Linked DNA regions of Homo sapiens. Each later gene encodes a partner of the first gene's protein in a complex. Each region holds a gene or a part of one and is shown on either strand. Other genes may lie near its edges.

The links. The genes of interacting proteins can lie anywhere in the genome.
Region 2: EFTUD2 (region 1) and CWC27 share a complex: the UniProt entries of both Homo sapiens proteins name them as parts of the minor spliceosome.

The regions. Positions count from the first base shown.
Region 1 is NC_000017.11:44,889,446-44,892,945, forward strand, and holds part of EFTUD2 (116 kDa U5 small nuclear ribonucleoprotein component), read right to left. Parts: intron 1-3,500. UniProt on the Homo sapiens protein: Required for pre-mRNA splicing as component of the spliceosome, including pre-catalytic, catalytic and post-catalytic spliceosomal complexes. Component of the U5 snRNP and the U4/U6-U5 tri-snRNP complex, a building block of the spliceosome.
Region 2 is NC_000005.10:64,799,930-64,803,429, reverse strand, and holds part of CWC27 (spliceosome-associated protein CWC27 homolog), read right to left. Parts: intron 3,183-3,500; coding exon 3,103-3,182; intron 2,129-3,102; coding exon 2,098-2,128; intron 1-2,097. UniProt on the Homo sapiens protein: As part of the spliceosome, plays a role in pre-mRNA splicing. Probable inactive PPIase with no peptidyl-prolyl cis-trans isomerase activity. As a component of the minor spliceosome, involved in the splicing of U12-type introns in pre-mRNAs.

The DNA of each region.
Region 1 (3,500 bases):
TGCTGATGGGGATGATCCTGTAGACAGGGAAAACTGATGGCACAGGAGAGAGAGGGCAGAATTGCCAAAGGTCTTGAGTGGTGAGAAGGGATGGGATTAGTTTCTAGTAGACAGAAACATGAACAAATCATTCGTAAGAACGGAAGGGAAGGCATCGTATATGAGTACAGATGTAGGCAGGTGGGTAGAGGGACTGCTGGGTGCTTGTTTTCCTTCACACAAATTCCAGCATGCCAACCTCTTCCTTAAGAACACAAAACCCTCCAGTGGTGAGACCGGCTACCTCCTACCATCTTACACTCTACTTCTACTAAAGTGGCCTAAGATTACATTAGCTCTTTTGGCAGCCACATATATCCTACTGGTGGTGGCTCCAAATAGCTATCAAGCCAGTTTTCTCCTGCCCCATACTGCTGAATATATTATGAATCTAACTGCAGGATTTTATATAATAATTTCTGACTGCCTGTAATTATCTCTATCCGAGTCTACAGTAGCTCAACAAGTCTAAACAAATAAAACTAAACAAATATTCTTTTATCATTGCTTTTTCTAATTTTTAATTTTTTTATTTTTTTGAGATGGAGTTTCACTCTTGTTTGCCGGGGCTGGAGTGCAGTGGCGCGATCTCAGCTCACTGCAACCTCTGCCTCCTGGGTTCAAGAGATTCTCCTGCCTTAGCCTCTGGGCATGCCACCCAGGCGCATGCCACCACGCCCAGCTAATTTTTGTATTTTTGTATTTTTGTATTTTTAATAGAGACAGGGTTTCATCACGTTGGCCAGACTGGTCTCGAACTCTTGACCTCAGGTCATCTGCCCACCTCAGCCTCCCAAAGTGCTGGGATTACAGGCATGAGCCAACGCACCCAGCCTTAGAAGGGACATCTTTCTTTCCTGTCCCCATTACCAAAATCTATGCATCTCTACTGTTATATACCTCAATATAATTAAAAAAAAAAATCTGTCCAGGTGCGGTGGCTCACACCTGTAATCCCAGCACTTTGAGAGGCTGAGGCGGGCAGATCACCTAAGGTTGGGAGTTCGAGACCAGTCTGACCAACACGGAGAAACCCCATCTCTACTAAAAATACAAAACTAGCCGGGCGTGGACGCACATGCCTGTAATCCCAGCTACTCGGGAGGCTGAGGCAGGAGAATCGCTTGAACCCGGGAGGTGGAGGTTACAGTGAGCCGAGATCATGCCATTGCACTCCAGCCTGGGCAACAAGAGCGAAACTCCATCTCAAAAAATAACAATAATAATAAATCTATGCATCTTGTGGACTAGGAGGCTATAACCCTCATTCTGCTGGAAAGAGGGTAGACCAGTACAGCCATTTTAAAGGGCAATCTGACAGTACTTAGTATAAACATATTAACTAAGTATAAATACAATAAGCATATGTAGATAGAGATATAATATCCTACAACCAGCAACTCTGCTCTTGGGAATATAACCCAAAGAAATTTTTCCACATTGCATAAAGGGACACATATGAGAATGTACACTGGATTATTAATTACGGCGAGGGAAGGCTGGTGACAGGTAACCTTGGTGTCTATCACTAAGAGAGGAATGTCACCAGGGCAAACCGAGTAGCAGTCAGTTCCCACAGACTAGATGTACACACAGCAACAGGGAGAAACCCTAAAATGCACCACTCATCATGATGCTGAGTGGGAAAAGAAACAGAACAATGCAGACAATGATACCATTTACTTAAAATACACACACACTATGCAACTCATAGAAAAAGAAACATACATAAATTACAAAGAACTGTGGTGGCAGGTATGGGAATGAGATAAATGGGAATTAACAAATTAATTAAATAACAGCAGAGCTCTCACAGCAATGACACTGAGGAGTAAGAACTAAAGAGTATGAGTGACTCAACTGTTTGTACTGAGGTAAAAACCTTCATAGGGTCTCACTCTGTTGCCCACGCTAGAGTGCAGTGGCATGACCATAGCTCACCACTACCTCAAATTCCTGGGCTCAAGCCATCCTCCTGCCTCAGTCTCCTGAGTAGCTGTGACTACTGGCATGTACCACCATGCTTGGCTAATTTTTAAATTTTTTGTAGAAATGGGGTCTCACTACATTGCCCAAGCTGGTCTCAAACTCCTCGGTTCAAGTGATCCTCCTGCCTTGACCTTCCAAAGTGCTGGGGTTATAGGTGTGAGCCACTAAGTGTTTAGCCCATTATTCTTTATTTTAAAAATTTTTTTGTTAATAGCTTTATAGAGATATAATTCACATTCCATACAATCTATCCATTTTAAGTGCATAATAGTTTTTAGTATATTCACAGAATTGTGCAACCATCACCACGATCAATTTTAGATCATTTTCATCACCCTAAAAAGAAACTCTGTTACTTACCAATTCCACCTGCCCTCACTCCCAACAAAAAAATCCTGCCTCAGCCTCCCGAGTAGCTGGGATTACAGGCGCGCACCAGCACACCCAACTAATTTTTTGTATTTTTAGTAGAGACGGTTTCACACCACGTTGGCCAGGCTGGTCTCGAACTCCTGACCTCAAGTGATCTGCCCGCTTCAGCCTCCCAAAGTGCTGGGATTACATGTGTGAGCCACCACGCCTGGCCTATTACTGGGTTTTTAGTCCCAAATTCATGTATGTTGGGATCACTTTGAATTTAGATTCTGTTATCCAATACATTAGTTTTATGTCATGTGCAAATTAGATAAACCTCTGTTCTCTATCTTTACCCAAGTCACTAATAGGCTGAATGACGGGGCACAATGGTTCCCCTATGTAATCTCAGCATTTTGGGAGGCCAAGGCAGGCAGATTGCTTGAGCCCAGGAGTTCAACACCAGCCTGAGCAACATAGTGAAACCTTGTCTCTATTTAAATATATTTTAAGTTGAAAAGGACAAGACCAAACACAGATGCCTAGGACATGTCACAAGAGCTCTGCTGGTGACCCATTAATCAAAAATCTTTGTGTCCCACTGTTCAACCAGCTGTGACCTCCTCTAATTGTATTATGATGCAGCCCATGTTCTTTTCACTAGGACATCATGAGTTACAGAGGTTAACTGGGGAAGAAGAGTGAATGGAATGAGAACAAAGGAAACCTTTCTATCAACATGGTTTGAATGAGAATGTATTCATGAATTACCTATATAATTAAAGAAAAACACACTGTAAAACCTTTTTTTTTTTTTTTTTTTTTTTTGAGATGGAGTCTCGCTGTGTCACCCAGGCTGGAGAGCAGTGGCTCGATCTCAGCTCACTGCAACGTCTACCTCCCGGGTTCAAGCAATTCTCCTGCCTCAGCCTCCTGAGTAGCTGGGATTACAGGCATGTACCACCACACCCAGCTAATTTTTGTATTTTAGTAGAGACGGGGTTTCACCATGTTGGCCAGGCTGGTCTCAAACTCCTGGGCTCAAGCGCCTCAGCCTCCCAAAATGCTGGAATTACAGGCGTAAGCCACCACACCTGACTGTAAACCTTATTTTCAAA
Region 2 (3,500 bases), on another chromosome or scaffold:
GTCATCCAATTACAGCAAACACTCCATGAGAGCTAAAATTCTGGCCTGTTTTGCTTACTGCTGTATCTTCAACTCCTAGAATAGTGCCCAGCATTGACAGATGGAGGAACAAAGGGAAGAAAGAGGGGAGAGAAGAAGGAAGAAATAACCCCAAGTGGATCATTTTTCTTTTGTGATTCTTTCTTTGATCTGGTGAGTCGTAGTGAAGCAGGATTCTTAATTTGAGACTTGTGGACCCCTAAAGCACTGGTCCTCAAAGTCTGGTCCTTAGATGGTATTACATAGTTGTTTATTAACACCTAAAATTCTAGCCCTCATTGCAGACTTATTGAACCAAAATCTCTGGGGTAGGAATTACGAATGTTTTCAACAAGATGTTTAAGTAATTCTTAAGCACTAAAAGGTGACAACCACCAACCTAGGCCTTCCATGCTCAGGCCTCAGGAGATCTAAAAAAAATTCCCTGCAAATTCATATAATTTTGGTTGTGAATGTAGTACATTTTCCTGGGAAAGGATTCACAGTTTTAGTCACTCACCCATGATATTAAGAGCAAATCTATACTTTTACTTTCTATCCTATACATTGATCCTAACTTCTAGACCCATATTATGTTACACAGATGTCTCCAAATTACCTCAATCTTGAAATGTATAAAATTAAGCTCATTATTTTTCATCCTTTTCTCCACCTCAACCCTATGCTTTCTTTTGCACCCATCTAACAAGTTGCTCAAACCAGAAACCTTGTGGTTGTCTTGGACTACTCCTCCCTCACCTCATAGTGTAGAATCAGTCACCTCCTAGACCTCTTTCAAATCTACCTCTTTCCCATCTCACAGCTGTGGTCTTATATCAAGCTCTCCTCCTACAATAGCTTCCCAGTATCAGTCTGTTTCCTCTAATTTGTCCTCTATAATATCGCCAATAGTGATCTTCCTGAAATGCAAAATTGATCATAGCATCCTTCTTTTTAACAAACACCTTTCAACTGTTCCTCACTTCCTTTTAGGAAAAAACTCAAACCCCTCACCATGGCCTATGAAGCTCTGTAATGAAGCTCTGGCCTGTCACCACACCCTGTTCACGCTGGCCTGCTTGCAGCTCTTAGAACACACCAAACTCTCCTGCTTCGGACCATTTTGTATATGCAGTTCCCCTTACCTTCAATACTCTTCTTCCTTGCTCTTCACAAGACAGACTCCTTGAAACTTTAAATTTCCGTTTGTATTTCCTAAATAAGGTATGATCTCTCCTTATTTCCATGCTTTAGCATATGCTATTCTCTGAGCTAGAGGGACCTCACCCCCTTCATCACTTTCTTTTCTGACTTAGCTAACTCCTAACTCTCATATAAGACATAAATAGCATCATCTCTTCCAGGAAGCTTTTCTTGACAAGGTCAGATATTCATCCTCTCTCTATCTACTACTGATAGCCATAGAGAGCCTTCTCTTTTGACTGTGATAATAGATAAATCTGTGTTCATGCATGGAAAGTTATGTACTTCCTAGTAAATTATACAATGCACAGATTAATGGGTTTTTATATAAAAAGTGGCATATGTATAATTTGAAAAACTTGACTCTTATGTATTAAAGGAAAATCTTCCTTCTGTTTTGTTAGCTTTGTTAGCCACTACAACTAATAAAGATCACTACACTCTTGAATGAGAATCTTTTGAAATGTGTATATAAAAAGGAGACACTACTATAAATTACTGATCCAAGCATTTCCCATATATCATGTAGGATGCCCACACACCAATATTTAAACTTTTAATACAATAAATTTATAACATCTGAAGTTTGAGTATTAACGTAATGTTATGTGAGGGGGAGAAAAAAACAGACTAGAAATTCATATATAAGATTCTAATGTTGTAGAGAGATATACACACACACACACGCACACCCCTAGAGTAAGGAAATAGTCTAACACCTAAATAATTTCTGTTTTTCATATTTTTCCAAAATTTGACATATATAACTATAAAAGTAATATACGTTACTTTTTAAGAACAAAATTAAGTTTTTGTAAAAATTTTGTACTTTCTATGAATTGTTCAAACTATATTAATACCAAAATAAATACTTACATCAACTAAATCTGGTGCATCACCTTTTTCACTATAAAAAAAATAAGCAAAACAAATTTTAGTTTCAAGGTAAAACTAACACAATTATTTTGTAACCCAAAAATCTAGAATAGTTTGCTGGGAATAACATTCCAAAAATGTATTTCAACATAGGAATTTAAGAAAGGCATTATAGAACAGATGGAAACATTCTTTAGAGTCATTTTTTATAAGTGGAATAAGTATGATTCATTAGCAAATATATGCGTTCACTAGAATTTGAAAGGAAAAAAGCAAACAACAACCGACAGTGTTATTTTTATGATCAATGGTCTGCAAAAAACAATTTCTTTTATTGGCTTGAAATATTCTGACTAAAAAAACCCCCAAATCCTTCAAATAGAAGGGTATTAAGAAAAGATTGTCTTAAAACAGGAGTTTCGAAAATGAGCTAAACTGAGTACAACAGCATTGTAGTGCCCCTTGAGATACTGGCCCAGTTTATCTTGTGCTATTACATCTAACACCAAGACGTTTTCCCTTCTCAAAGAGAAGCAACAAAGGTAGCAAGACAACTTTCTGTTAACTCCTCAAAGTATGTGAGAATTTATAGTCAGTGGACTGGCCCCCAAACTGGTAACTTCTTCACAAAAACCTTTAACTGTAATTTGTTCATTCATGATACAATTAAGGCAAAAATGCTTCAAGGAAAAGGTAGCAAAACAACCTTGAATTAAGCATTACACTGTTAAAGCAAACAGTTTCTAGTCCTAACATGTAATGGTAAAACAATTTTAAATGTAATTCATTCAACAGAGGTAGAGAGCAAGTGCGAAAGTGACTAGAGCGTTTGTTTCTCTCTATCAAGCTTGAAGTTCTCTATCTCTGTTATCAAAATGCTTTATTTTTTTGGCTGGCTTAAAAATTTTTGACTTATGAGGACTGACTGTTTACTCACAGAAGAAGCAAGAAAATTATCTGAGCCAGAAAATTAAGAACTTAGGATCATACCAACAATGGACTAACCTTTCTACAACTGGAACAGAACTGAGATGTGGATCATCCTTAAGCAAGTCATGACTACTTTTGCTTTTGCCCTTCATGCTCTGCAAAGAATGTACAATATAATCATGAGGGGGGAAATAAACAGTATTCCTAAATAACAAGTTAACAAATTTACATAAAACCTAGCAATGATATAATATGGTTAGCAAAAGATGTATTCCTGAAAAGTTTAATACAAACTAAAGTTTTATAAGTAAGAATCTTACTCTTCTATTGACTGAAAATAGTATTTTAGAAACACCTTTTCTTTCAAAAAATGATATATCATTTAAAAGAAGTCTGTTGAATTACCAACTTGAAGCACTAAATTCTCATAATAATTTGCATACTATGAAACTAGTTAATTTTTATGACCCCTA